3 separate regions of the Homo sapiens genome follow, and all the other regions are linked to region 1. The links come from fine-mapping of genetic effects on gene expression. A gene starts in region 1. Each other region holds a variant in brackets. All regions are shown on one strand. Distances are between the middles of the regions.

Region 1 (10,317 bases):
TAATCCCAGCACTTTGGGAGGCCGAGGCGGGTGGATCATGAGGTCAGGAGTTCAAGACCATCTTGGCTAACACACTGAAACCCCATCTCTACTAAAAAAACAAAAAAATTAGCTGGGCGTGGTGGCCGCACGCCTGTGGTCCCAGCTACTTGGGAGGCTGAGGCAGGAGAACTGCTTGAACCAGGGAGGCGGAGCTTGCAGTGAGCCGAGATTGCACCAGTGCACTCCAGCCTGGGCAACAGAGCAAGACTCCGTCTCAAAAAAAAAACCACACACACAAAAAAAACAGACCACTGCTGCAGGGCCATGGGGTGTAGGAGCAAGGGATTAAAGGTATATAGGCAGAAGAAGCATTTTGAGTTTCACCTCAAAGAATAAGAAGGGTTGGGCCGGGCGTAGTGGCTCATGCCCGTAATCCCAGCACTTTGGGAGTCAAGGCAGGAGGATCACTTGAGCCCCTAGGAGTTTGAGACCAGCCAGGGCAACATAGCAGGACCTTGTCGCTACAAAAATTACAAAAATTACCCGGGTGTGGTAGCTCGCCTGTAGTCCCAGCTACTTGGGTGACTAAGGTGAGAGGGATCACTTGAGCCCGGGAGGTTGAGGCTGCAGTAAGCCATGAGCACACCACTGCACTCCAGCCTGGGCAACAGAGCCAGGCCCTGTCTCAATAAAATAAAAAGAAAAGTTGTTCTCTGCCCCCAGCCCCATTTATATAGAAAAACAGAAGCTCCACCCCTCCTGTCCAAGGAAACCTGGAGCACAGAGGTGGGGTTACTTTAAGACTTAGGGCCGGGCTCAGTGGCCTCCCACTTTGGGAGGCTGAGGCAGGAGGATTGTTTGAGCCCAAGAGTTCAAGACCAGCCTGGACAACACGGTGAAACCTTGCCTCTACAAAAAATGCAAAAATTAGCCGGGCATGGTGGTGCATGCCTGTAGTCCCACCTATTCGGGAAGCTGAGGAGGGAGGATTGCTTGAGCCCAAGAAGTTGAGGCTGCAGCGAGCTGTAATCATGCCACTCCTCTCCAGCTTGGGTGACAGCGCAAAACCCTGTCCAAAAAAAAAAGGGGGGGCAAGTCCCAGTTTTGCCATTAAGCTTCTTGAGAGCCTAATGCAGGATGGCCTCTCCTTTCTCTCATCTCCTGCAGCGCTTAATATCAACAGCATGAGGGCTTGTCTGACTTCGCTGTGTAAGCTACTCGGAGAGCAGAGACCGTGTTAATGATCCCCGGGCTTCACTGACATTGTGTGGAAAGCACAGTACTTGCACATACTAGGCTTCCTTTTAATCTGACTGATTCCAAACGGCCCCTAACCTACAATGGTTTGACCTGTGATTTGATGTTGTGACTTTACAATGGTCTGAAAGCTGTAGGCATCAGCACATACCTTGACTTACGATGGCCTTGTCCAGATAAGGCCATCGTAAGTTGAAAATATCCTAAGTCAAAAATGATATTTTCAACTTACGATGGGTTTTTCAGGATATAGCCCCAGCCATCATAACTTGAGGAGCAGCTGGAGCTTGTTAGAGCCCAGTCAGTAAAACAAAAGGCCAGGAGCTGGGTGCCCTTAAATCTTGTACCTGGTGTGGACCTCACACACTCATCCAGAAAGTGGAAGGGCACTAGTGCCCTAGATCTGGCCTTGAGGTCCTCACACTCCTGATTAGGTTTTGTATAAATCACCTTATTAGAGACTGGACCCATAATATACATTGAAATGTTAACAGTCCTGCTCTCTGAGCAGTGAGAATAGGGGTGATTCTTTTTATTTTCTTCACTCTGCATTTCTAAATTTTCCAGATTTGAGATGAGGAAAAATCAGGTCAGTCCTTAATACTCAGAGGGAGGGGGATGACCTGGTTTTTGGTGGCAGAAGTGAGAATTCCTACTCTTTCATCTTAGATGGCAGTTACCTTACATAGATCACACACAAGATGCCTGTGTTTATGCCTTTCTCCCTCGTGAATTACTAGTTCTCATCATTATAGATCCATAGAATGTTAGAACTGGAAAGAAGGTCAGCTCCCCTGATGCTTATCCCCCTTCCTCAGACCATGGGTCTCTTGGAGACGGAAAGTCCTCTTCCGTTGGCCCCACAGCTGTTGTAACACTGCTTGCCTGTCATTTAGAGTGCCCATCATCATTCTCCTCTGCTGACAACCTCTGCCGCAAACTGGAGGACCTGCAACAGTTCCAGAAAAGGGAACCCGAGAATGAGGAGGAGGTGGACATCCTCAGCCTCTCCGAGCCAGTGAAGATAAACATCAAGAAGGAGCAGGAAGAGAAACAAGAGGAAGTCAAGTTCTACCTGCCACCAACCCCAGGGTCTGAATTTATTGGGGATGTCACACAGAAGGTAGGGGTTGTGGTGTTAATAGTTCATGCAGCAGACCAGCTCAGAGCTAGATGTTCAGACGTTCAGCTTCACAGACCCAGACCCAGGTGTTCAGCCTCACAGACACAGACTCAGACCCAGACTCTTCTGGTGCCGTAGATGCTTGACTTCCTTCTGCCTGGTTGACCCAGGTGTGCTCTCAGGGCTCCCACCGTCCCACATCAGAGCCCTTGGGCAGAAATGCTAATTACATGTGAAAACATTGCTTGTTGAACGCAGACGTGAAGCAAAGCTGGCTAGATAGAAATGGTTGATTACTCTTCATCTTGTTTTTCTCATCTGCCTCAGTAGAAGCACCTTTCCCTCATGAGGCACGTCGTACTCTTTCTGAGTTGCACGTCAGCGCGTAATCCTCCCCTGATGTGTTGATAGCTCCTGAGTGCCCCGCCTGTGGTGCAGATGGCGTGCACCTGCCTTACTATACAGGAGAGAGGTATTTATCCACCCTGCTGGAGCCTAACAGCTCTTCAGCATCTGCCAGTTGCTCAGGGCCCAAGGTGAAAGACAGTGTGCTTTCATTGGATGCCATGAAGAATGGGCAAGATGCAGTTTCCAAGTGCAAACAGGACGTTGGAGTCTGATTCCAGACCTTTCAAAGTGTTGATTGCGTATCAGAACCCAGGCAGATCCCAACCATGTTCTCCCACGAAGGAGATTTGAGAGATTTTAATAGGATTATAGTCATATTTTAAATATCAGCCAGAAATGTGGAAAAACAAGATAACATTCTTCTAGATGTTATATTCCGTGTTCCTTTCCCGTGAATTTTGCCCAATATGTTTGCAGAGTCCTCCTTCCAACCAGGCATCGCTTTGCATGTCAGGGAGGTATGCTTGTTTGGAGAGAGGCTGTTTCTAAAGCAGCGATACGAACAAACGGCTTTCTTCTGCTTTTCCAGATTGGGATCACCCTGCAGCCCGTGGCACTCCACAGGAACGTGTATGCGTCCGTGGTGGAGGACATGATCCTGAAGGTGGGTGCCTGCAGGGGCCGCCAGCCAGGAAGGATGGTTGCATCCCAGGCGGTTTGGAGTAAGGGGCAAGGACAGAAAAGGAACAAAGATAACAGGCTTTAAAATGTCTCGTCTTATTTGGGCTTAAGTTCTCTCTTTTTGTTTTTTTGTTTTTTTTCCTTCTGATTTTTAAATGGACTAAGTTATGTTTCCTCTGAGTCATGTGGTTTCAGGTGCCTCCTAAGACGTATTCTGGGGGTGGTGGTCAGTGTGCTCGTTGCTTTAGGAGGTGGCAGAGACAAAGCCTATGGTTTTCTGTACACGTCACAACAGCAAACAGCCCCAACTGTCCTGACCCTGGCAAGGGGACGAAAATGCCGCAGCCTCCTTCCCCAGCCTGATCCTAGCTCAGCAGTTCCTTTCCTCGTGGATCCTCTCCAAGAATAGGGATACCTCCGTAACAACTGCTTTCCTTAAATACAATGTCTAGGGCTGGGCGCGGTGGCTCATGCCTGTAATCTCAGCACTTTGGGAGGCCGAGGCGGGTGGATCATTTGCAATCAGGAGTTGGAGACCAGCCTGGCCAACATGGTGAAACCCCATCTCTACTAAAAATAAAAAATTAGCTGGGCTTGGTGGCGCTCACCTGGTAATCCCAGCTACTTGGGAGGCTGAGGCAGGAGAATCGCTTGAACCCGGGAGGCGGAGGTTGCACTGAGCCAAGATCGCGCCACTGCGCTCCAGCCTGGGCGCGAGAGTGAGACTCCATCTCAAAATAAATAAATAAATAGAATAATGTCTGATTAATGAAAATCACTCCAATTCATAATTTCTCAGAATCATGGCCTTTATCATTATGGTCTATTATTGAGGCCTTTAATTTTTTCTTAAGGACTTTTTAATCCCTAGTTGCAGTGGTTTCAAACATTTGGGGTAAGGGATGGGGTTAAATGTGTCCCTTCTTGCCAGCAAGCAGATGGCCATTTGAAGAATAACAGCATCTTCCATTGTAGGCTACAGAACAGCTGGTGAATGATATCCTGAGACAGGCTTTGGCAGTTGGATACCAGACAGCTTCTCACAACAGGTATTACTATCTCTGCAGTCTGTGGTGTGAGGCTTACACCTCTTTCCTAACAGTTGAATTGCCCATGAAGGTGTTTTATACTTACATCAATCCAGTAGGAGATGGAGTGAGTGCTTAGGACACTCTTAGAGCCAGATGAGCTCAAGGGTCTGCTTTGTCATTTTTAGAGAACCTCATGGTTGTGAAAGCTCACTCAGCTTTGCTCAGAGGTTTATATCCTCCTCATTACTTCACAGACACCTAGGACTCTGTTTTATTACAGGGTTGAATAAATATTAGCTTTGCAATTAAAGATAACAGTGTCCATTACATGTCAGACACGAGGGCCAAGCGTTGCATATATTACCTAATTTGTTTTTCATTGCAGAACTATTATTCTCTTTTTAAAAATCAGGAAACCGGGCTTTGAAAGGTAATTTTACCCAGCTTACCCAGCAAATACAGTGTAGACCTGGACTTCCGACTCAGGTCTCATTGGCTCTGAGGCCCCTGGGCTCGCCACTGCTCTTTGCTGACTCGTTGTCTTTGATTAAGACACTGAGTTTCAGTCTGTTCCTAGGCCCTGAAAGGATGGTAGATAGGCCACATCTGCTTTTCTTTCGGAGGAAACAAATATTATTTTATTGCATTATGCTAAAGGCTGTCACAGATTTATAAAATTGTAGCAAAGTGCCTGAGGACATGAAGGGCCTAAATCAGAGGAATAGTAGATGAAACTTCACAGGAATATATCAGACAACATAGGCGTCTTTAGAGAAAAGGAAGGGGAACCAAGAGTTCCGGTCCTGCTGCCCACTGTCCTGCTTGGACCCACAAGTGAGCCAGGGCCTCCTGTGGCCCCTGCTTACCTCTGTGCTCCCTGTCCTGGAGGGGTAGAGTGACTTAGGTGCTTTTGATGGAACGATTAACATCACGCCTGGCCTGGCGTGGCTCCGTCTCCCGTCTTTCTAGGAGATGGGAAATAAGGTCCCAGAGTTTTGTGGTGCTTTGACTCAGCTTTCGGTCTGCTGAGACTCACTCACAAATGTGTCATTCCGTTCTGCCATCCGCTTTGTTTTCTTTCTCTTTTCTCAGTTCTCAGAATCTTTTTTCCTAATTATTCAACCAACTTGTTGACATCCTTCTCATGCCTATGACAGGAAGGCAGTCCTCACCCCAGAGTGGCCCTAAGCTATGTCTGTGGCTCAGGAGCCCTCTCCACGGGGCCTCTGCCTGGGATGGTCCCTGTGATGAGTTAAGTGAATAAATGATGAGATATACGTGAGAGAATTTCACCTGGTAACACCCTTTGTTTTTTGGACCAGGATTCCCAAAGAAATTACAGTGAGTAATATTCACCAGGCCATTTGCAACATTCCTTTTCTGGACTTCCTCACAAACAAACACATGGGAATATTGAATGAGGACCAGTGAGCGGAGTGAGGTGCCCTGGAGAAGCAGGCTTTGAAGGCACAGCGAAGCTGTAACTGAGGACCCTGCTGCTCGGGAAGGAGGTGGTTTCCAGTGTGACTCGGCATGTCATGGCTACCCAACCTTTGCCGCTGCCTGTTCCCACGTGTCACCAGCACGCTGCACTCCAGATGAAATCCTCCTAGGACAGGAGTTTGTTTCCTGAGTGTGGAGTGAGGCTGTCAGTGGATCCGTGCTTTGTCGGCCAGCGTTTCTGCAGTCTTTGTAAAGGCCCCACGAGAGCGGGCCAGGCCGTGTGCCTCAGGCCCTTCTCCCTGGGTGTGCTTAAGGGGGCTCCTTGGGCCCGCCTCCCCAGGAGGTAGAAAATGAGTGGCAGGCTAGAGATTTCACCCATTTTGTGGGCTGGAGTTACCAGTAGCTCCAGCAGTTACCCTGAAGAGAGATTGGGCTTCAGCCTTCAGCAGGTGGTTCTCTCCCATGCCTGGCCTTGGTGTGGAGGGGCTGTACTCTGAGCCCAAGTGAGTCAGCTATAGGAAGAGGCCATACCTAGAGCCAAGAACCATGAAGGCCTGAGAGACGGCAGACTGAGCAGAATTCCTTTTTTGAGCACGAGAGCATTACTAGAACCATTGTCAAAGCAGTGGCAAGGGACGGAGAGGTCCCAACAGGAGTCAGGAAGAGGTTTGATTATAACCAAGAAAACTCACTATGCTAGGAATAGACTGTGTGCACCAGTCCCAGACACTTGGCAGAAGTGTAGCAGCGTTACACATGTGTGCGAAGCAGATCGCAGGTTCCACGCCATCTGCATGGCCTGCAGGAGCTTCTGCTGCTGACCCCATGCTGAGTGGCCAGTGGGGAGCGGCGCCCGGCAGGCTCTTCTGGGGTCGTCTGTCCTATCCGTGGATTGTATATACTCTTCTCTGTTAAGGAGTTTTTCCCAAGAAGAAAAGTATTTAAAAGAAATACCAGTGAGTGCCTTAAAGTTGGAGAAGTAACTGCCCATGCCCAGAAATAAGGATGCCAGTGCCCAGAAGCAGTGAGATTAGTCTGTGTCCACAAGCAGAGGCCCCCTCGATGGGAGGGAGTGGCAGGCAGGAGAAGGTGGCGCTGCCAGGTGCCCGGGTCTATTGGAGGCGCCCCATCTCAGACTTCCTAACACAGCCTGTGTGGAAGGCAGAACAAAGAATGCATGCCCAGTCAGAAATCTGTTCTATTCTGCTCCAGGAAAATCGGAAACCTGTGAGTCAGAGTCAGAGAAACTTACCCAAGCAACGTAATTCCTGTTTTCATGGGTCCTGTAGATGTTTGAGTCAGGAAGGTAAGGCGGGGAGTGACTGAATAAACTCTGCCTTTTAAATTGAGCATCTGGGCCGGGCATGGTGGCTCACGCCTGTAATCCCAGCACTCTGGGAGGTCGAGGTGGGTGGGTCACCTGAGGTTGGGAGTTCGAGACCAGCCCGACCAACATGGTGAAACCCCGTCTCTACTAAAAATACAGAAAATTAGCTGGGCATGGTGGTGTGTGCCTGTAATTCCAGCTACTCGGGAGGCTGAGGCAGGAAGAATCACTTGAACCCAGGAGGCGGAGGTTGCAGTGTGCCAAGATCATACCACTGCACTCCAGCCCTGGTGACAGAGGAGACCCCGTCTCAAAAATTGATTGATCAATTCAGCATCTGAGGGCTGCAAGTACAGAAGGAATCTATTCTCAGCAGGGCATAGGGCACGCACTGGCTTAACAGTTTAGTATATAAGGCTCAAATAGTCTATACCTGAACTGCTATAAGCAAGGTCGATAGGGAAGTGGATAGATTGCTTCAGCAAAGTGAACTGTGAGATCTCCAGGACAGAGGGAGAAAGATCTGATCCAAATGAGAACAGATTGGTTATTGCAGGTATCACAGCCTAAAGAAATTATCTTTTTGCAAAAGAAATATTAAATGATTTAGCAGTCTCCACGTGTGTTAATGTTTCAAACGTGTATCATAATGTGTATAATTGTGTAACAAAATTGTCTACAATAAATCTTTTGGTATTTGTGGTGGGTGTTTCTGAGTTTGAAGCATGGTACTCAGGCAGGGTTCTCCCTGCACTGGGATGAGGTGATGGTGTAGAGTCTTATTGATATGTTTAAATTAATTCCTCTACTTCTTGCCAAAAAAAAAAAAATGTTGCAACCGTATAAGATAAAGGATTACAGTTACATAAAAGTCTAAAAAAAATTTGGAAATGGACATAATTATTCCTGACAGCTTGGGGCAAAAGAAAACTGCATAAATGAGCTCAGAGCTTCCTTAAAGCCAAGGCAGAGAGAGAATCAGCTCCTCGTGTCTAACAAAGAAACATACCGGGTTATCTGGCAGGGTAAAATTGGACTGTGTTGAGGACTGAAACAAGTCACTCCTGTGACACGGTCCTTATGCTGTGACCATCTGCTAGCATATGGCTCAGAAATAGTGAAAAATCCAGAAACGTAAGAGCTGAAAGATTTTGAAAGCTTTGGTTCTTCAAAGGCATTATGATACAGTCCAAGTATGTAACTTTCTGGGGACCAGACTTTGCTGAGAGTCATAATGGAGAGTCAAAGAGTCTGATGGCTGAGAGGGGTGTGCCTAGGCTTGCCTTCATAAATGTTCATTGTCTCAGCCAAGGTTTTGGCAGGAGCGAGAGCAGGCTCAGATCAGTGTCACAGGCAGTACCTTACGTGACTTGGACTCCAAGTTATTGATGGAAGGAGTCCTGTGTGAACGGGGCCAACAGAACTGGCTTTGGGGCTTCATCATCATCTTGACCCTGTTCAAAGGGGAGGTTCTTCCATTTGTCTGGGGTGGGCTGCAGGGCCTAGCTTTTTTCAAAAGCTGCTTTTGGGAACGTGGCCTGAGTCCTGGAGTTCTGTACCATGGAGCACAGAGAGGCGAGACCTTGTTCTAAATGCCTGCAAACCCCCTCGACTTGCGGAAGGATCTTTAGGACTTTCCACCTGCAGAGCGTCATAGTGCAGCCCGTGGCTGCTTGAGGCAGCTCCCGCAGTGGCAGCTTGGGTTGTGAAATAATTAAAAAGTTAACATTTTCTTTTGTCTGGAATTTGCTAACATGTTGAACTGCTTTTTATTTATTTAGAGACAGAGTCTGGGCCGGGCACGGTGGCTCATGCCTGTAATCCCAGCACTTTGGGAGGCCGAGGCAGGCAGATCACAAAGTCAGGAGATCGAGACCATCGTGGCCAACATAGTGAAACCCCGTCTATACTAAAAATATAAAAATTAGCCAGGCGTGGTAGCAGGTGCCTGTAATCCTAGCTACTCAGGAGGCTGAGGCAGGAGAATCGCTTGAACCTGGGAGGCGGAGGTTGCAGTGAGCCGAGATCGTGCCATTGCACTCCATCCAGCCTGGGTGACAAGAACAAGACTCCATTGTCTCAAAAAAAAAAAAAAAAAAAAGAGTCTGCTCTCTCGCCCAGGTTGGAGTGCAGTGGCACGATCTCAGCTCACTGCAACCTCCGCCTCCTGGGTTCAAGTGAGCACGTCTGGCTAATTTTTGTATTTTTAGTAGAGATAGGGTTTCACCATGTTGACCAGGCTGGTCTCAAACTCCTGACCTCAAGTGATCCACCTGCCTTGGCCTTCCAAAGTGCTGGGATTACAGACATGAGCCACCATGCCTGGCTTGCTTTTTATTTTTAAGAACTTTTTCTTTACAGAATTATTATAAAAATGTTTACAGAAACTTTAGCAAGCATAAAAAATGTGTTTGAAAAACTACTCATAATTCCTCCTCTGAAAGATAATCACTGCTAACATCTCTCAGTGCCTTTCTTTCAGTCTTATATGCGTATTATGTATGTGTGTGAGAGATGATTGATAGATAGCTATGAGTTGGGACCACATGGTTGAGACTTGTCTGTCTCAGTTGCTTCTTGGGTCACTTGCTGAACATGTTAGGCCTGATTATTTAGACCTAAGTGAGTGGGAAGGAGTTTCAGCATAACCCACATCTCCTCATAAAGAGGCCAGGCTGGGTGCAGTGGCTTACACCTGCAATCCCAGTGCTTTGTGGAGGCTGAGGCAGGAGGATTGCTTGAGCCCAGGAGTTCAGGACCAGCCTGGGCAACCATAGGGAGACCCTGTTTCTACAAAATGTACAAAAATAAATAAAAAATGGCCGGGTGTGATAGCTCAACGCCTGTAATCCCAGCACTTTGGGAGGCTGAGATGGGAGGATCATCTGAGGTCAGGAGTTCGAGACCAGCCCAGCCAACATGACGCCCCGTCTCTACAAAAATTAGCTGGGCATGGTGGTGGGCGCCTGTAATCCCAGCTACTCGGGAGGCTGAGGTGGGAGAATATCGCTTGAACGTGGGAGGCAGAGGTTGCAGTGAGCCGAGATTGCACCACTGCACTCCAGCCTGGGTGACAGCCAAAAAAAAAAAAGCCAGGCATGGTGGCATGCCCCTGTGGTCCCAAC
Region 2 (10,317 bases), 270 kb before region 1:
TCTTATTTAACCCAAAATATACCTGAAATATCATTTCAACACGTAAGAAATATTTTAAAATGACTAATGCGATAACTTACATTCTTTTTCTCATACTGTGTCTTCAAAGACCATCATATATATGTATGTATATATGTATATATGTATGTATGTATGTATATATGTATGCATATATATACATATATATATATATATATTTTTTTTTTTTGAGACAGAGTCTCTCTCTGTTGCCCAGGCTGGAGTGCAGTGGCACAATATCGGCTCACTGCAGCCTCAGCCTCCCGGATTCAAGCGATTCTCCTGCCTCAGCCTCTTGAGTAGCTGGGACTACAGGCTCATGCCACCACGCCTGGCTAATTTTTGTATTTTTAGTAGAGACGGGGTTTTACTATGTTGGTCAGGCTGGTCTCAAACTCCTGACCTTGTGATCTGCCCGCCTCAGCCTCCCAAAGTGCTGGGATTACAGGCGTGAGCCAACGTGCCCAGCCTTATGCGTATTTTATACTTAAAGCATCTCAGTGCAGAGTAGGCACAATTCAAATGCCCAACAGCCACATGTGGCTAGTAGCTACCATATTAGACAGTGCAGCTCTTGCCATCAGTCCTGAACTCAGGTGTTGGGGTCACCCAGACCTACAGTCATCTCAGGAGGCAAAGCAAATTTCACCCTCGTGAATGTCATATAAATAAATATATGGGAAACAGGAAGTTCAGCAGGACAGGGTGGGCACTAATTATGGGGTCAAATAAGCTTCATATAACTGAGGCAACACATCTCTAGAGACCCACCAACATGACATTTAGAAATGTTATTTCACCCGGACTGTGACTTGAAGATTAGTGAGAGGTTAATTTGGTTGAATCTGTATAATCAAGTCTAAAGGAGGGATGTTCCAATGGTTTAAGTTAATGCTTTGCACTCCAAGGAGCTCCTAAATGAAGTCAATGTGTTTCCCATGTGACATATTATTGGGCTCTCTAGGGTCATCTGGACTCTTAATTGGGCTGTCACTGCTAGCCACGGCTTCCGAATTCTTTTTGAGACGAGTCTCGCTCTGTCGCCCAGGCTGGAGTGCAGTGGCACAATCTCTGCTCACTGCAAGCTCTGCCTCCCGGGTTCATGCCATTCTCCTGCCTCAGCCTCCTGAGTAGCTAGGGCTACAGGCGCCCGCCACCACGCATGGCTAATTTTTGTATTTTTAGTAGAGATGGGGTTTCACCACGTTAGCCAGGATGGTCTCGATCTCCTGACCTCATGATCTGCCCCCCTCGGGCTCCCAAAGTGCTGGGATTACAGGTGTCAGCCACTGTGCCTGGCCCCAAATTCTTGTTTGGAATCACAGTCACTTAATAACATGCTGCCCCAGCTCAGCCCATGTCTGACCGGGCATCTGGATTCCCTGCAAGCAGACCCCCTCTGCTAGTGACGTAAGGGAACAGGGGGGCAAGACAAGGGGGGGAGGAAGCCCAGCAAGACAAAAGTCATGCAAAAAGTGGCTTCAGCCTGATCCTGCAGGGACCTCTGGAAAAGACACTTCTGAATTGTCCCACCAGGAGGCAAGGGCCGTGATACTCTCTGACCACACTGACTGTCTTTGGTTACAGGCCATCCAGGAGTAGGTAAATTCTCCAGCACATCTGGCTTTGTGTATGTGTGAGTTTGCATGTGCACAAGCCAAGGGACTTCCGGGAGCCTGGGGAGGGCAGGGGAAAAAGAGCAGCCACCTGGCTGTTGGCAGGCAGAGGAGGGACTGGTGTCTAGTCTGACCTCTGATGCTCACTCATTGTGTGACTTAGTGCAAGTGAGTGAACCTCAGCTTCCTCATCTGTAAAATGGTATAATAGTCCCCACCTCAGTGAGCTGCACAGAAGAATAAGCAAGATGAAGTACACCAAGGCGTTAGCACGATACCTGGCACCTCGTCAGCACTCAATCAGGGAAAGTATTTTGGACCAAATCAGAGGAATCTTGGAAGGTTGGTAGGAGACACTTAGGGGTAAGTGGACCAAGCACCACACTGACTCACAACCCTTATCTCTTCAGCATTTGGCCGGGTGCGTATCAGGTAACTGCGTGTCTGACTTGCTGCATTGCTGTCGACCATGCATCCAGAGCAAGCATAGGGCCAGCGCTGTGCACGAATCGGCCTAAACATCTCAGCTCAGTTCGTGGGAGAGAAAGAAAGTGCCCTCAAGACAGTGTCCTTCTCTCCAGGGGTCTTTTTAACCAGCTTTGACTCCCCAAGGCCCAGCATTTCTCTGCTCCCTTTGAAATATTTTCATGAATTTTCTGCCACTTAAATACACTACCCTGGCCATGGCCACCATGCTGAACATGGGTAAGATGAAACTAAGGGGAAATCTGCATATTCCTCATAGACTATACTCCCAGGCCTCCTGCTGCTCCTCTGGGAGATCCATGGACACACTCAGACAAAGCTTGGTCCCCATGGGTTGTCAGCAATAGAGTAGGAATCAGAACCTAGGGCTTCAGGCTCTGAATCAGGAGCTCAGCAGTGCACGAAAACCAAGAAAATCAGCAGGAGTTCAAGGCCTTTTGCGGGGGATCAACTCAGTGTCAGCGCTCAATGGACCAGCCCAAACTTTGCTCTCTGAGAACACAGCTGAGTTGGTTGCTGACAACTTATCCTGTGGCATACATGCAAGATATTGTGTAATAAAAACACTTTCTAGAAAGACACTGACCAATTCTCATGAGATTGTTGTAAAACAGAGGTAGCTAGGAAGATCCTCATTTTACAGCAGAAACAATCTCACAGCAGCATACCAGTTGCCCAACACTTGGGCGGTGAGTCAGTGCCCACCCCAAAATAGAGCCTGACCCAGCAAGCTTGTCTCCCACAACAGTCATGAAAATATCCACAGGCCCAAGAATCTCCCAGCATGAAGTCAGGCCATGCCACAAACACTGCCTGGCCACACGCCTCTCCATTCTCCACCAGGCTTCCTCACCTCAGGTCTCTGCCAAACATCGCCTTCTCAGAGAGGCTCTCCCCGACACTCCCCCTAATCTAAAATCGCCACTCCCTCACCTCTTCGCTTCCTTTATTTTTCTTCATAGCTCTGCACATCCTGAAATTAGATTACCTATCTATTTGTTAATTATTGTCACCCCACTAGAATGCCAGCTGAGTGAGGGTGTGCCATGCTCAGCACTGTATCTAGGGGCCAGAGCAGTGCCACCACCAAGTAGGGACGGTCCCTAGGGAAAGTGAGTGAATGAATGAATCAACCAACTTGTCCTTCCTAGTCCCTTTGCACTTGCTTTTGACAGGAATCTGTACCTCCAAGAATTATCAAATATATCTGGAGGATGAGGCCCTCCACCGCCACTAGGGAACTCCTATCACACTCCCGAGTCCAGGGCCTAGAGCTTGAAGAGGACACTCGAACATTCAACGTACCTGCACTACTTCAATGAGCTCTACAAGCTCCTGTAGTTCCTAAACTTCACCAACTCAGAATATTTCACCCAGCCCGACTCCATTATAGCTGACCCCTTCCCTAGAACTCCACACCTCTGAACTCCCTGCCTCCTGTAACCCTAATTCTAACCCTATAAACAAATACCCACACCTATCACTCCCACTATCTCACTCCTACACCGGCTCCACCTGTCTGCCCCCTGTTCTGTCCTTCCTCTTATTTCTTCACCATTCCCCGTTTATACCAGGAACGAACTCCCCTGTTTCACTGAGATATTCTGTGTGGCGGTGGCTTTAACATCAGTTGCAAAATGAGTTAAATTCTACTTAAGAATACAATGTCCATATGTATACAATCAGTTTAAAAGTTTTTTAAACTAGTCAGCATGTACTACACAATGAACACTATTGTTAAGAAAGGATTATTGGATATAAACACAATGAAGTCAATCAAAGGGGGTTCCATTGCAAAGAAAGCAGGGAGTCAGCAGATGCAAGTGTGACCTAGCATGACATGGCATCTCTCTCTATGGTCCCCAGCACTTCTTAGTTCAAGGCACCAAAACCTGAGCCAATACTAACCAAGGGAAGCACTTAAACATTCAGCTCTGCCCTGTTTCTGAGCTCAAGCTGTCCCCTAAGTTTTATCATATGGATCCTGTCTCAATACTGGAGTCCTGCTTACATCCTTGGCCTCAGATACTCCAGCCTCAAGAGGTGGATCTCAAAATGTGTTCCCTGAACCAGCTGCATCAGAACCTTGGGTTGCTTATTCAGAATACAGAATCCTGTACCCCACCTACCTTAGACTTACTAAAGCCAAATCTCTAGCAGTAGGGCTGGAGGTATGTATTTAATTAGGTGTCCCTGGCTCCGACTCATAATTCCTTTGCAAAGCAAACTTTGAGAACCTCTGCCCTAGAAAGAGGTCACCCCTACTTCCTCCTGAGAAGGAGACTGAATGAAGATCAAGGTCATGGAAACAATTGGCCATAGTGCTAGGGAAGATATGTTTCGGAAAGTCCTCCCTCACTATGGATCCTTCCTTTCATCTTCTAAGACACAGCCTTCCTAGAATTCCATGAGGCCTATGGCTGCCTCCCGAATCAGGTGGCAATCCCATTCCGTTTGCCAGCTTTGCTCCAAACTGACAGAGGAGCTGGAAGCCTACAGCTGCCCCGATCTGACTCTAAGCATCAGCAGGCCTCAGAATAACTCCCTTCTGTGGGCCAGGCACGGTGGCCCATGCCTATAATCCCAGCACTTTGGGATGCCGAGGCTGGCAGATCTCGAGGTCAGGAGTTCAAGACCAGCCTGGCCAACACAGTGAAACCCCATTTCTACTAAAAATACAAAAAATTAGCTCGGTGTGGTGGCGGGTGCCTGTAATCTCAGCTTCTCGGGAGGCTGAGGCAGGAGAATTGCTTGAACCCGGGAGGCAGAGGTTGCAGTGAGACAAGGTCGCACTACTGCACTCCAGCCTGGGTGACAGTGTGAGACTCCATCTCAAAAAAAAAAAACAAAAAAACAACTCCCTTCTGCCAAGCTTCTTGCCCTAGTTCACCACTCCTCAAGGACACTGCCCACGGCCCCTGTGGAGAAGAAAACTCTGGCCATGTTCCTAGGGAAGCAGAATCCCTCCAAGTCCCACCAGACCATTGCTGATGCCTCAGCTTGCCATGAAATTCTGCCATCCAAGTTTATGACAGAAAGAAGGACTTGTTCTGTCTGCAAGATCAGACAAGAAAGAACATCAATTACAACATATACTTGTGGTCAGGCTTTAGTGACGATACAGTCACAAAGATACAATGGACAGTTTTTGTTTTGTCTGCCCAACTTACTCCTGTCTCTTTTAGCAGGAGTACTCAGATCTTCCGTTGGGAAACACCCCACCGTCCAAGCCCAAGCCACAATGATTGGTTCAGGGATGGGAATAGGAAGAAGCCAATTCAATTGGAGCCAATTCCAGAACTTTCTTTGGAATTACTGAGAAAGAGAAGCTGTCTCTTCCCACTAGAATTGCTGAGCTGGTGGACATGAAAGTTTGGAGATGCTGGCTACCTGCTTGTCCTCATGTGTGAATACATTCCCTGAGAGAGAAACCCACACAGAGGAAAGCGGGACTAAGAAGGAGAGAGAAACTGAGTCATGGTAACA[T/C]TACTTTGGGCACAAGGACCCAACTATACCTGAAACCATTACCCCAGACTTTTTTTAATTCCATGAGCAAATAAATTATTTTTTCCCCTTTATGCTTGGACCAGTTTGAGCTGAATGTCTGTCACTCGCAGGGCGGAGTGATACAATTGGACAAAAGAAATCCCAGCGATTCTCTGAATTGGAACTCCAGGCCCGTTTTTGTTTGTTTGTTTGCTTGTTGGTTTGTTTTGAGACAAGATCTCTCTGTTGCCCAGGCTGGCCTCAATCTCCTGGCCTCAAGCAATCCTCCCACCTCAGCCTCCGAAGTAGCTGAGACTGCAGGCACACGCCACCACACCCGGCCCCATTGATGATTACCCTAAGCTCTCCTACCTGAGAGTTTAACTTACAAAACATGGTGATTATTCTTTACCTTTGTCTGCTTTTGTTTTTACACATCTTCCACCTCCTTCCTGAAGATGAAACCTGGCTTCCCCTAACAAAACCCCACTTCCCTCACAAACCAACGAGGTCGGCTCAGATTCTCACTTCCCCTCTGGGCCTGGAGCAGGGTCCGCATTTGCGCTCGCCGTCCACCACCACATCCCGACCAGGCTATTGCCCGGAGGCTCCACATGACCCTCTTTTTCCACTTTCCACTCCCACCTCCAGGACTCTGTGGCTTCCCTGTGACCATGTCATTGTCCAGAAGTTAGGGATCAGCCTCTGCTTAAAGATTTTTTCTGAGCCTTCCCTGGTTCTAACCACTTAGAAACTTGCAAGCTGGCACTGGCCCCAGTCTTTACCCCAAGGTATTCAAATGCTAAGGCTCCTCCAGTCATAAAAGGTATCCCTTGTGACAGGCAAAGATGATCCTATGTGCGTTCTAGGCTGCTCCCTCCGCCAGCTGCCACAGAGGAATCTGGACTGCCAGGCCTGTCCCTTGGGCTTTCATGATACAGAATCCAGAGGGAAAGGGACAGAAGACAGGAGCTCCTCCAGCTGGGGATGGGGAGCAGTTATGAATCTAGACGTGAAGGAGGAGCTGCCACAGTTGGGCTACACGCAGGAGTGCACAGGCCAGGCTTGACTTGAGCTAAAATCCAGCGCCCCCTACACCTGCCAAGCCTTGTGCACTAACGTGGATTGCAACCCCCAGAAAGGGGCCCCCATTTCTAACTGGTCCTCCCAGGTAACTTATTTACATTCAGAGGAAGGGGCTGAGTGTGGTGGCACATGCTTGTAGTCCCAGCTACTTGGGAGGCCAAGGCAGGAGGCTCACTTGGGGCCACGAGTTCAAGTCCAGCCTGGGCAACATAGCAAGCCTCTAAAAAACACAAAACAACAAAAACAAACAAACAAAAAAACCAAAGGAAGGCACCCTAAAAGCCAGCAGTGGTCTCTATCAGAGATGTGGATAAGAGAGGGGAACATATTTTAATAATAGCTGTGGCTCTATCTCCAAGGTGTTCAAGAATTGCAAGTCCAGAACTTGAGATGTTTTGTTTATGAGCTTTGCTCTAAAACGGGATAGCCTGGGCAGGAGAAGGGTTGATAAGGTCAGACCACTTTCTCTTTCTCTTTCCAATCTTGAGGCTCAGAGCTGGTCCTCAGCAAAGAGTGGAGTCAGTTTGCTTTGTGTTCCAGCCCTCCTAACCTCACTTCCCCCTACCCTTCCCTGCTGGGCAGCGCTGCCTCTCCCTCATGCTCTCTGTGGTCCGGCTGCCCTGCAGGCCCTCAGAGAGGATGTGAATGTTGCTGGAGGCCTTCTCCCCAACCACACTGCCTATACCTTAATTCCAACCCTCATCTCCTCTCACTGAAATTTCTTGCAACTTACCTAAGGGTCTGCCTAGATTGATGGGACCCTCCATACCCACAGTGCAAAGGATTATTTTAAGGGAGATCTTGGATCACATCTCTTTCCTACTTAAAGACTCTTCCACGGCTTCCCACTATCTGTAAGTCATGTTTCAAACTCCACAGCTTCACCCAACAAAACCTTTCCCGGTCTGACCATGCCTGTCTCTCAGCCTTATTGGCCTGTGCATGTCCTTTATTTCAACCTACTCTTCTACCTGTGGTTACACTGCGTGGCACCTTCCCGGATGTGCTTCTCTTTGCCTGGAATGCTCCTCTCTTCTCCTTTCTCCCCTCTGGCCCCTTCTGGCCAATGCCTACTCATCCTTCAAAACTCCGTTCAGATATCACCTCTGCCAGGAAGCCTTCTCAGACTGCTCTTTCTTCCGTCTGATTTAATGCCCTTCTGTAAGCTCCTATAGCTCCCATGTAGCAAACCTCTCACAGCCCCTGTCCCCAGCTCCACCATAACCCCTGTGCAGAGCTGCATCATAGCACTTATCACCCTGTACAGTAAACATCAATTTACTTATCTCTCTGTCCTAACTAGATGATGATTTCCAGGTCAAGCAGGAACCATAATTTATTCATCTTTGTAAACTCTGTGCCTGCCACAGAGTAGGCACTTAATAAATTTGTGTCAAATGGATGGATACATGGATGGATGGATGGATGGATGGATGGATGGATGGATGGATGGATGGACAGATGGATGGAAATTCACTAAGTCCACTCAGCACTGTAGTTCTGAAAGTTTAACATTTTGCATTCCTTCCCCTCCAGGTATTTGCACATTAAGAGAGATAATACTGGCTGGGTGAGGTGGCTCAAGCCTGTAATCCCAGCACTTTGGGAGGCTGAGGCGGGCAGATCACCTGAGGTCAGGAGTTCAAGACCAGCCTGGCCAACATGGCGAAACCCCATCTCTACTAATAATACAAAAACTATCTTGTTGTGTTGACCTGTAATCCCAGCTACTCTGGAGGCTGAGGCAGGAGAATAGCTTGAACCTAGAAGATGGAGGTTGCAGTGAGCTGAGATCGCACCACTGCACTCCAGCCTGGGCGACAGAGCGAAACTCCATTTCAAAAAAAAAAAAAAGAGAGAGAGAGAGATAATACTATGCAGTGCTCCTTAACTGAAGGCCTGCTAATCATCGGTGGTACACTGGAGGAGCATGGGAGGAGTGAGGATTTTCATAGCAGTTACTAAGAATTCTCTCCCCCTCCATTTCCAGGCCCACCTGCTAATGAGACAGACATCGTCTGCCAACCCAGCCTGCTATCCTGAGTTTTAAAGACACTGCTAGTCACCTGACACTTTCCTAACTTTCCCTAATCTCTGTTCTCTTCTGTCCTATTTTTTTGTGTTGCGTTCGCTATACACAATAATACAATAAAATTCCACCTTCCAGGAGTTATCCACTGGGCCTCCACCTCTCCCAAAATTCCCCCAACACCAAAAGGCCCTTGATACTCAGCCCTCCATAAACCTGAGCTTACTCTACAAGACACATGATCTTTTCAATCCAATAAGGTCTTACTGGACCCTGGACCTGAATCATTATATGCAAACCTGCTGAGTGTCTATTATTTATTGTAGATCCCAGAGCATCTCTTCAGAAAGGGCTATGATGCAACCTGTTAGTTTTGGTTTGATTGTGTTTTAAAGCCGTAGCACCAGGCCGGGTGTGGTGGCTCACGCCTGTAATCCCAGCACTTTGGGAGGCCGAGGCAGGCGGATCACCTGAGATCAGGAGTTCAAGACCAGCCTGGCCAACATGGTGAAACCCCATCTCTACTAAAAATACAAAATTAGCCGGGCATAGTGGCACACGCCTGTAGTCCCAGCTACTCGGGCGGCTGAGGCAGAAGAATCGCTTGAACCTGGGAGGTAGAGTTTGCCGTGAGCTGAGATCAGGCCATCGCACTCCAGCCTGGGCGACAAGAGCGAAACTCAGTCTCAAAAAAAAAAAAAAAAAAAAAAAAGCCATAGCAGTATCAGCACTCTTGTAATTATGGTGGCCTTAACGTTTTCCATAGAAGTTAAATACAGTAAAAGAATGCTAACCTTTACAGCTAGCAGAGGACATGTAGGTTGCCTAAGTGATACTTTTTCACAGCAAAGGAGACTTATCTTTACGTGGAGATGGCCTCACCAAAAGCATTTAAGAAGGCTTTTACAAAAGAAGCAGAGGGATCATAAAACACAAAACAGTAACAATAAAAATAAGAACACAAGAATTAAGAAATTAAAGTCGAAGGAGAATATGTCTCTGAAACCAAGGCTCAGGAAAGTTAATCCACAGAGCTTCCTGACAGTCACAGCAAAGGCAAAAGTGCGACAAATTGGCTAATAAGAAAGTAAAGCAGTGTTTGTTACCCCTCTTTAGCGGACTTTATTTTTCCTTTTGTCCAGCATCTCTCCATATCGGGAAATGCTCTTCTCCCCATCCAGGCCCCACTCAAATCATGTGATTCAGGCGGGAGCTCTCACGTCATTACAGGCCTCTCCGCCTTTCTATCTTCTGTCTCTCTCTCTGTCTCTCAAACACACACACACACACACACACACACACACACACACACACACACACACACGCACAGCTCTTTAGCCAAGGGTGGACTCCTAACCTAGGCTGGGCTGATCATTGTGCCCCACCTCCCTGGCACAGTGATTGGCCTAGGATTGGGTAACTGAATGGGGCTGAGCCAATCAGAGTCTTTCCCAGGGGTTTTTCAAGCCACAGGTAGAGAAAGTCCCTCATTTTCCCTCCAGAGCCAAGGCTAGGAGTCTCATAGCAGCCAATAGGCAAACTCCCAACCGTGTGGCAGAAGTCAGCCTGAGAAACCCAACCTGAGAGAAGCCAAGT
Region 3 (10,317 bases), 59 kb before region 1:
CTTTTTTAATGCTCTTCCCCTCCTCAGATGCTTGTCTGAATTCTTTGCATTCTTCAAGTTCTTATGTAGCTTTTCCTGGCTGTTAAAGCCTGAAGTGATCTTTGTATTTTGTACAGTAAATAATGACGTGTATTTGATTCTGTAAATATACATTAAATATTAAATACTCTAAATATTAGAGTTACATAAAATTTAAAGTTCCTAGAATGTGTGAAATTACTATATCCTGCATTTCTGACAGGTAGTCATTTACTCTCTCCTTACCCATTACCCTAGAGCACAGCACTTCCCAAGCCAACACATTGATCCATTTAGTAAAACCTTGACCCCGTTTGTCCTTTTGTCGTAGTGTTTCTTTTTTCTGTTTTGTTTGTTTGTTTTGAGACAGGATCTCGCTTTGTCACCCATGCTGAAGTGCGGTGATGCAAACACGGTTCACTGCAGTCTCAACTTCCTGGATTCAAGCAATCCTCCCGCATCATCCTCCTGAGTAGTTGGGACCACAGGCGTGCGCCACCATGCCTGGCTAATTGTTTAATTATTTTTGTAGAGTTGAGGTCTCGCCATGTTGCCCAGGCTGGTTTTTTTGTTTGTTCGTTCGTTTGTTTTTTGTAGATAGGATCTCCCTTTTTCACCCAGGCTGGTGTGCAGTGGGGCGATCATGGCTCACTGCAACCTCAACCTCCTGGGCTCAAGAGATCCTCCTGCGTCAGCCTCCTGAGTAGCTGAGACTACGGGAACATGCCACCACACCTGGCTAATTTTTGTAGAGACAGGCTTTTGCCATGTTGTCCAGGCTGGTATTAAACTCCTGGACTCAAGCAATCAGCCTGCCTTAGTCTCCCAAAGTTCTGGGACTACAGAAGTGAGCCACCAAGCCTGGCCTCAGGCTGTTGATTTTTGAAATAATACAGAATAAGGCTTTGTTTTATAAGAACGCTAAAAATGTTTAATGATAGCCTTCATGTCTCCTGAAATCATTTCTACTCCAGGCAAAACCTGTTCCTGTTACATTTCTTGTATGCTTTGTTTTCCAGTTCCTCTTCTTGTTTTGATACTAGTTCTGTCCTATCCAATGTCCCTCTTGAAATTTGGTCCCAACAATGAAAGATACACCCGTGCGGATTACAGAGAGACTATTATTTCTATGCTCTGGAGACTGTGAAAATGGATGTAACCTAAAATTACCTTTTTTTTTTTTTTTTAGCAGTCATACTGTTAGCTAAGGTTTAAATATTAAAACTCCAGATTTCTTCCATGGAACCACTATTAATCCACCCTGTATTGCTTTTTATCTTGTGAACACTAACTCTCATAACTGACTGAGTTGTCCTCTCTATGTTGGCTGCTAAGAAACTCAGCCAGACGTGACACCTACCTCTCATAAGCCTTTAAAACCTTGTATTTACTAACCTACCCTGGCTTCATTTTTTCCCTCTCTTTTTTTTTTCTACCCAATTTAATACTTTTCCCTGTTAATCTTATTGCATGTTTATATTGTTATCACAAGTTCTTTTTTTAGTGGTGGAATATAAATTTACAAATAAGAACTTAACCTTTTTCTGTGTAATTGTAAACTCTTGTTTATATTATTAACATACCCTCAGTTTGTGTTCCTCTCTCAAAAAACAAATCATGATGCCAGTATATTTGAAGTCATTAGCATAGCCTCTACTGCCTATGTTTTCATTCTTTTTTTTAAGTGCTTAGTAAATATACTCTGAGTATATAATTGTGTCCAAGAATGTATGCATTTAAAATATGTATAGCCTGTCATTTAAAATATCTGTACACAGTCTTTGCAAACCTCATCTATGTGGCTGCATGATATTTCAGAGATTGATGGTCCATGGTTTACTTACACATTCCTTTATTCTGGATTTTTATGTTGTTTTTAGTTTGGTTATAGATAATGCTGCAGTAAACATCTTTTTGTGTAAAACTTCCTCCATTTTTACATTGTCCTTAGAATAGGTTTTTTAAAATTATAATTTATATTAAAAATATAGTAACTATATGTCTGAGGTTTTTATTGATTTTACTCAATTTTTTATTGAAGTGATGAATTTATATTTTACATTATGAAAAAGTAGATCCTATGGTATGAAGACTTGCAAAAGAGCTGTAGATAAAGATTGTATCCTATGATAATATGTAAGTAAGTGCAGTGAAATTTAACACTCTCCCTTTTGTCTTTCCATAGCTGGATAGAACTTATACTGGCTTGCAGACTCTTGGAGCAGAGACGGTAGGTTTTTTTCCTACAGTATTATCTGGGAATGAGTAGGATGAAAATTGATCTTCATTTTTTGTTTGTTTGTTTGTTTTGAGACGGGGTCTTCGCTCTGTCACCCAGGCTGGAGTGCAGTGGCATGATCTCGGCTCACTGCAACCTCTTCCTCCCAGGATCAAGTGATTCTCCTACCTCAGCCTCCCGAGTAGCTGGGATTACAGGAACGCACCACCATGCCTGGCTAATTTTTATATTTTTAGTAGAGACAGGGTTTCACAGGTGTGCGCCACTGCACCTGGCCGATCTTCATTTTTAATTAGGGAAAAAATTAGTGTTAGTTTTTTTTTTTAAAGTTTGCCTTTCTGTGTTAGTCCATTCTCACACTATTATAAATAACTACCGAAGACTGGGTAATCTATGAAGAGGTTTAATAGACTCACAGTTCCACAGGCTTACCAGGAAACTTGTGGCTCCTCTCCCCTTGTCTCCCCTCCCTCCTCTTCCCTTCCTTCTCCCTTCCCTTTCCCCTTCCCCTTGTCCCCTCCCCTTCCCCTCCTTTTTTTTTTTTTTTGAGAGGGAGTGACGCTCTGTTGCCCAGGCTGGAGTGCAGTGGAGCAATCTTGGCTCACTGCAACCTCCTCCTGGGTTCAAGCGATTCTCCTGCCTCAGCCTCCCAAGTAGCTGTGACTACAGGCACGCGCCACCACACCCAGCTAATTTTTGTATTCATAGTAGAGACGGGGTTTCACTATGTTGGTCAGGCTGCTCTCGAACTGCTGACTGCTCTCGAACTGCCTGACCTCAGGTGATCCACCCGCTTTGGCCTCCCAAAGTGCTGGGATTACAGGCGTGAGCCACCACACCAGGCTTTCTCCTTTTCTCTTCTCTTTTCTTCTTTTTCTCTTCTCTTTTTTTAATTGAGACAGGGTCTTACTCTGTCAGCCAGGCTGGAGTACAGTAACATCATGGCTCACTGCAACCTTGAATTGCTAGACTCCAGCCATTCTCCCACCTCAGCCTCCCAAGTAGCTAGGACTGTACACCTGCACTAGCAAGCCCAGCTAATTTTTACATTTTTTATAGAGACAGTGTCTTACTATGTTCACAGGCTGGTCTCGAATTCTTGGCTTCAAGCAGTCCTCCCACCTCAGCATCCAAAAGCACTGGGATTACAGGCATGAGTCACTGCGCCCAGCCTTGGTTCATATATATATGTGTGTGTATATATATATATTTTCAAAATGTATATATATTTTCTTGAGACAGAGTCTCACTCTGTCGCCCAGTCTGGAGTGCGGTGGCGTGATCTCCACTCACTGCAAGCTCCGCCTCCCGGGTTCACGCCATTCTCCTGCTTCAGCCTCCCAAGTAGCTGGGACCACAGGCACCCGCCACCACGCCCGGCTAATTTTTTGTATTTTTAGTAGAGATGGGGTTTCACCGAGTTAGACCAGGATGGTCTCGATATCCTGACCTTGTGATCCGCCCATCTCGGCCTCCCAAAGTGCTGGGATTACAGGCGTGAGCCATGGCGCCCGGCCGGTTCATATATTTTTTAAAAATTGTGCTTAAAAAACACGTAACACAAAATTTACCGTCTTACCCATTTTTCAGTGTACAGTCTAGTGGCATTAAGTATATTCACATTATTATGCAGCCATGACCTTAGTCCATCTTTAGAACTGTTTTCGTCTTGCAGAGCTGAAACTCTGTACCCATTAAAAAATGACCACCCACTCCTCCCGCCCCCCCAGCACTGGCAACTGCTGCTCTACTTTCTGTCTGTGTGAATTTGACTACTCTAGGGTACCTCATATAAGTGGAATCATAACATATGTGTCTCTTTGGGATTGCCTTATTTCGCTTTGCATAATGTCCTCAGATTTCATCCATGTTGTAGCGTATGTCAGAATTTCCTTCCTTTGTAAAAAAATTTATTTTTATTTATTTATTTTTGAGAAAGAGTCTTGCTCTCTCTCACCCAGCCTGGAGTGCAATCACGGCTCACTGCAGCTTTGACCTCCTGGGCTCAAGTAATCTGTCCTTAGCCTGTCAGGTAGCTGGGACTGTGGGCGTGTGCCACCATGACCAGCTAATTTATTTACTTACTCGTTTATTTATTTATTTATTTTTTGAGATGGAGTCTCGCTCTGTTGCCCAGGTTGGAGTGCAGTGGCTCGATCTCGGCTCACTGCAAGCTCCACCTCCCGGGTTCACGCCATTCTCCTGCCTCAGCCTCCTGAGTAGCTGGGACTACAGGCACCTGCCACCACGCCCGGCTAATTTTTTTTTTTTTGTATTTTTAGTAGAGACGGGGTTTCACTGTGTTAGCCAGGATGGTCTTGATCTCCTGACCTCATGATCTGCCTGCCTCGGCCTCCCAAAGTGCTGGGATTATAGGCATGAGCCACCGCGCCCGGCCTACTTGTTTATTTTTTGTAGAGACAGGGTCTCACTATGTTGTCCAGGCTTGTCTTCAACTCCTGGGCTCAAGCTGTCCGCCTGCCTTGGCCCCCCAAAGTGTTGGGATTATAGGCATGAGCCATTGTGCCCCGCCCCTCTTCCTGTTTTAGGCTGAATAATACTGCATTGTATGTATATACCACATTTTGTTTATCCGTTCACCTGCTGATGGACACTTGCGTTGCTTCCAGCTTTTGGCTGTTGTTAATAGTGCTGCTATGAACGTAGGTGTACAGGTATCTATTCAAATCCTTGCTTTCAGTTCTTTTGGGTATATACCCAGAAATGGAATTGGCTGGATCCTATGGTAATTCTATTTTTAGAGGAACCACTGCTATATTTTTTCGTGGTAGCCGCACCATTTTACATTCCCACCAACAGTGCACACGTATTCCAGTTTCTCCACGTCTTCACCAGCATTTGTTAATTTTTTTTGTATTTTAATTTATAGTAGTTATTCTGTTGTTTGTGATGTGATATCTTGTGGTTTTGATCTGTGTTTCTCTAATCATTAGTGATGTTGAGGATCCCTTCATGTGTTTGGTGACCATGTGTTTATCTTCTTTGGAGAAATGTCTATTCAGAGACATTCAGAAAATGTCTTTGCCCATTTTTAAATTAGGTGGTTTGGTTTTTGTTGTTGCTAAGTGACAGGAGTTATTCATATATTCTGGATAGTAACCCCTTACCAGATAGATGATTTGCAAATATTTACTTCCATTCCGTGTTATATTTTTGCCTTTTCACTCTGTTGATTGTGTCCTTTGATGCACAGAAGTTTTTAAGTTTGATGTCCCGTTTGTCTATTTTTTATTTTGTTGCCTGTGCTTTTGGTGTC[G/A]TGTCCAAGAAACCATTACCAAATTCAGTGTCATGAAGCTTTTCCCTTACATTTTCTTCTAGGAGTTTTATTGTTTTAGCTTTTATGTTTCGTTCTTTGATCCTGAGTTAATTTTGGTATATAGTGTAAGGTAAGGGTCCGATTGCATTCTTTGGCATATGGATATCCAGTTTCCCTGGCACCATTTGCTGAAAATACTGTCTTTTCCCCCACTGAATGGTCTTGGGACCCTTGTCAAAGATCATTTGACCATATATGTGAGGATTTATTCTGTTCCATTGGTCTGTATGTCTGTCTTTATGCCAGCAGCATACTGTTGATTACTATGGCTTTGTAATAAATTTTGAAATCAGGAGTCTGAGACCTCCAACTTTGTTCTTCACCTTCTCTCCCTTTTTTTGTATTCATCATATAATAATCAGCAATAGCCATTTAATCAGAGTTCACTAATTAAATCTTACTCTGTCTAGAGAAATCTGCTGTATTATATCAGAAGGTACTTATTGAGCGCTGGTCCAGGTGCTGGGAATACAGAAATGAACACGGTAGCTTCTTCCTTCAGAGTCAAATTCTTAGTGGCATTGAAAATGGGGAGGGTAGACAGTAAACACAAAAGCAAATAAAATTACTTCAGTTACAAATAAGTGCTGTGAAGATAAGAGTAGCTGGGGGATAAGGAAGTAGCTTATTCTTGGGTGGTTAGGCATGGTCTCTCTGAGAAGGTGCTACTTCATTGAGACCTGCTGGTGAGAAAGGCAGCCATGCAAAGATTTGGAGGAATAGCGTTGTAAGGAGTAGCAACAGCAAAATCAAGAGGTCCCAATTTTGTGAATAATTTCACTGAGATTTGTATGTTAAACCAGATTAGATTTTCACTGAGGTATGTGTCTGTTAAGCCAGATTAGATTACCTTCTAGAATAAATCCTTTAGTTCTTCAGATTGAAATTGCCTTTGAAGTGTGATTAGAAGTTATCTCTCACATCCCGGAGATTACATTCTTGGACGGGACTTGAGCTTTCTGTGACATTGATGATGGACTCATGAGCCTGATTGTTGCCCAATTGTCTAGGTAGTGGATGTTGAACTCCATCGCCATTCTCTCGGAGAAGACTGTATCTATCCTCAGTCCTCGGAGTCTGACATCTCTGATGCCCCTCCATCTTTGCCTTTGACCATTCCAGCCCCAGTGAAAGCTTCTTCACCAATAAAGCAGTCACATGAGCCAGTACCCGATACCTCTGTGGAGAAAGGTAATACAGCAGTTTTCCTTGCATAGCGTTGTTCTGAGGCATTCCTTTCCCATTTGCTGCTTTCAGAGACCTATAGTATATGGAAAATAACTTTGCTATAAGTGGACATGCTGCCTCTACTACACAGTTCTGTTATGAAAGCCAAATTTCCACTCTTGTCAAAAATATTTTTCCGGCCGGGAGCTGTGGTTCACACCTGTAATCCCAGCACTTTGGGAGGCCAAGGCGGGTGGATCATGAGGTCAGGAGATTAAGACCATCCTGACTAACACGGTGAAACCCCGTCTCTACTAAAAATACAAAAATTTAGCTGGGTGTGATGGTGGGTGCCTGTAGTCCCAGCTACTCGGGAGGCTGAGGCAGGAGAATGGCTCGAACCCGGGAGGTGGAGCTTGCAGTGAGCTGAGATGGTACCACTGCACTCCAGCCTGGACAACAGAGCGAGACTCCATCTCAAAAAAAAAAAAAAAAATTTCCATGAAGTTTTACTGACATATTATAAAATGTAAAAATAGCTAAAAAACATAAGATTTTTAAATTTATTTTTATTTTATTTTATTTTGAGATGGAGTCTTGCTCTGTTGCCCAGGCTGGAGTGCAGTGGCATGATCTCGCCTCACTGCAACCTCCACCTCCTGGGTTCAAGCAATTCTCCTGCCTCAGCCTCCCTGTTAGCTAGGATTACAGGCGTCCACCACCGCTCTCGGCTAATTTTTGTATTTTTAGTAGAGATGGGTTTTCACCATGTTGGCCAGGCTGGTCTCGAACTCATGACCTCAGGTGATCCACCCACCTTGGCCTCCCAAAGTGCTGGGATTACAGGCATGACCCACCACGCCTGGCCTAAAACAGATTTTTATCACTTGATAATTCCTTATAATGTATTACAGGAAGACTTTATGGTTCAGCTTCTGATTGTGCGAGCAAGAAACTTGGATATTAAATACCTGGTTTTACTTAAGAAAAGATTCATCACCAACAATGTATTTTGACCATGCCATTTTTAAATTTAACAAATATATGTGTATAAATACATATTTTAATGTTCCCATATATAAGCATAAAAGATATAAAATTGATCTTAAATGTTTTATTTCTAAGCCTATATTTTAATGTGGTTAGTATTATAGTTCTTTTATAAAATCTCAACTTTATTCCTCTTTAGATTTCAATTGCATCTTTTTTATGGGCATTTAATAAGATACAAGAGGGGCCGGGCACGGTGGCTCATGCCTGTAATTCCCAGCCTTTTGGGAGGCTGAAACCATCGGATCACCTGAGGTCAGGAGTTCAAGACCAGCCTGGCCAACATGGCAAAACCCCGTCTCTACTAAAAATACAAAAATTAGCCAGGGATGGTGGTGCATACCTGTAATCCCAGCTATTCCGGAGGCTGAGGCACAAGAATTGCTTGAACCCGGGAGGTGGAGGTAGCAGTGAGCTGAGATCACACCACTGCACTCTAGCCTGGGTGACAAGTGAAATAATGTCTCAAAAATAAGTAAATAAATAAGATAGGAGGATATCATTAGATTTAGTGAATGCTTTCTAAGATTTTTTCTTCTCTAAACAGTTTTTCAGTTTATATATTAAAAAATGGAGGAACATAAGAACTTTTGTTCTTTTTATGTTATACATGGTTTATAGTTAATAATGTTTTCAAGTTTTTTTAAAAAAGCACTTTAAACATTATTCTAAGCATATATATTTTTCACCAAAAATATGAAGGGATGATTGATTGTATTTATTTTGCTACCAGTACATGGTTTAAAATGGTGTTGAAATAATGCATTTTTATTCTTTTTCCACAACGGTAAGGTTTTATTTCAAAGCGATTGATGACTTGCCGTTTGCCTCTTTCATCTCAAGCAGGATTCCCAGCTAGCACTGAAGCTGAACGACACACTCCGTTTTATGCTTTGCCATCTTCATTGGAAAGAACACCCACCAAAATGACTACATCCCAGAAAGTTACCTTTTGTTCCCATGGCAATTCAGCTTTCCAGCCAATAGCATCAAGCTGCAAAATTGTTCCACAAAGTCAGGTTCCTAATCCTGAGTCACCTGGAAAATCCTTCCAGCCCATCACCATGAGCTGCAAGATTGTGTCAGGTATGCAGATGTTTTGAAGACAGTGTATGTGGAGTTGACTGGATGTTAAAATTGTTGGAACAACAAAACAAAATACTTGGCTTTTTTTCTCTTAAGTTCTTCTAAGCAGTGTTATGTTTAACAAAAGGAAGTTTATCACTGTTGATTGGCAAAGCTGTCACAAGGCAAAAACAAAGCTCATTCATACGGAAATGAATGGAGGAGATAAATGAAACTCAAATGGTCAAATTTTTGTCTGCCAGAATCAGCACAGGTAAAATGTTTGCTAGGATATATGGCTGAAACTAAGGTGTAGGAATCGTGTTTGGGGATTATATACATGGAAACCACAGTGACTAGTGATAGAAAAAATTTAGAGGCCTTTGGCATGGAGTTAAATTTTAAGGGTTAGAGTTGGTTGGGAATTGAAATGCTTTATTCTGTCTGTAACCACACTAGAAAATTATTCATTCCTATTGTCAGTAGGTAGTTCTGAGTTGTCTTGTTCACTAAGATTGGATTATCTTTTGCCTTGTGATAGTTTCATTTTATGTTAGGTAAAATTTAGTAGGAATATATGGTTTTGACTGTTCCACCTTAGAACAAAACATGTTTGTTAAAAGGCAATTGGAAATAACCAGGAAGTATGAGGACTTCTGTATAATAGTTAAATGAAGGGGGGAAAAAAAGAATGTTTGGTGTTGTAAGTAGACAGCTAAGTAGAAATAGGATCCAAATCTTTGATGAGAGATAAATAGCTTCTAATTGGTAGGCAATTTTTTTTTTTTGAGATGGAGTTTCACTCTTGTCACCTACGCTGGAGTGCAATGGCGCGATCTCAGCTCACTGCAGCCTCCACCTCTCTCGGGTTCAAGTGATTCTCCTGGCTCAGCCTCCCAAGTAGCTGGGACTGCAGGCACGTGTCACCACTCCCAGCTAATTTTGTATTTTTAGTAGAGACGGAGTTTCACCATATTGGCCAGGCTGGTCTTGAACTCCTGACCTCAGGTGATCCACCTACCTTGGCCTCCCAAAGTGCTCCGGTTACAGGCGTGAGCCACCGTCCCCTGTCATTGGTAGGCAATTTTACCTACCAGGTAGAAAAATTTTGGAACTTGCTACTTCAGAGGTGGAATAGGCTGAACATATAAATTGATTTGAAGTTTAAAGAAATTCATGGATGACGTTTGATCAATAAAAGACAGTAGAGGATGTTTAACTGTCAGTAACTTTTGAGAGTATTTTGCGGGAACACGAATCTTTCTGGGTTACGGCTGTGACATAGTATTGACAGAGACTTTTATTCTGGGTAGGTGAATTTCATATTTTCCTATTCAAAACAAGACACCAGGTTCTTAAATCTAGCTGTTTACTTACTGATTTTCTTCCTTCCTTTCTTTTTTTTTTTTTTTTTTTTTTTTTTTTTGAGACAGAGTTTTGC

Evidence for each region. PIP is the estimated chance that this variant, and not a neighbour inherited with it, causes the effect.
Region 2: its variant is the best candidate, but not a certain one, in a credible set for the expression of YEATS2-AS1 in thyroid (GTEx, PIP 0.88).
Region 3: its variant is the best candidate, but not a certain one, in a credible set for the expression of YEATS2-AS1 in pituitary (GTEx, PIP 0.75).

The regions. Positions count from the first base shown.
Region 1 is chr3:183,804,731-183,815,047 of GRCh38, forward strand. YEATS2-AS1 (YEATS2 antisense RNA 1) reads right to left here and starts at 5,721. Exons shown (of 3, transcript NR_046727.1): 1 at 5,289-5,721; 2 at 4,000-4,122; 3 at 2,334-3,382. It overlaps YEATS2 (YEATS domain containing 2), which reads left to right. Exons shown (of 31, transcript NM_018023.5): 28 at 2,136-2,362; 29 at 3,300-3,374; 30 at 4,367-4,440; 31 at 5,745-7,894. The coding sequence ends at 5,853. RefSeq lists an enhancer at 4,904-6,103.
Region 2 is chr3:183,534,755-183,545,071 of GRCh38, forward strand. The region is part of intron 1 of KLHL6 (kelch like family member 6); the gene reads right to left. Among named protein-coding and RNA genes, the nearest start is that of KLHL6-AS1, 8.8 kb to the right of the region's middle. RefSeq lists an enhancer at 6,225-6,334. The variant T/C (reference allele first, on the strand shown) is at 5,607.
Region 3 is chr3:183,745,469-183,755,785 of GRCh38, forward strand. It overlaps YEATS2 (YEATS domain containing 2), which reads left to right. Exons shown (of 31, transcript NM_018023.5): 9 at 2,204-2,248; 10 at 6,605-6,785; 11 at 8,658-8,897. Among named protein-coding and RNA genes, the nearest start is that of YEATS2, 53 kb to the left of the region's middle. The variant G/A (reference allele first, on the strand shown) is at 5,535.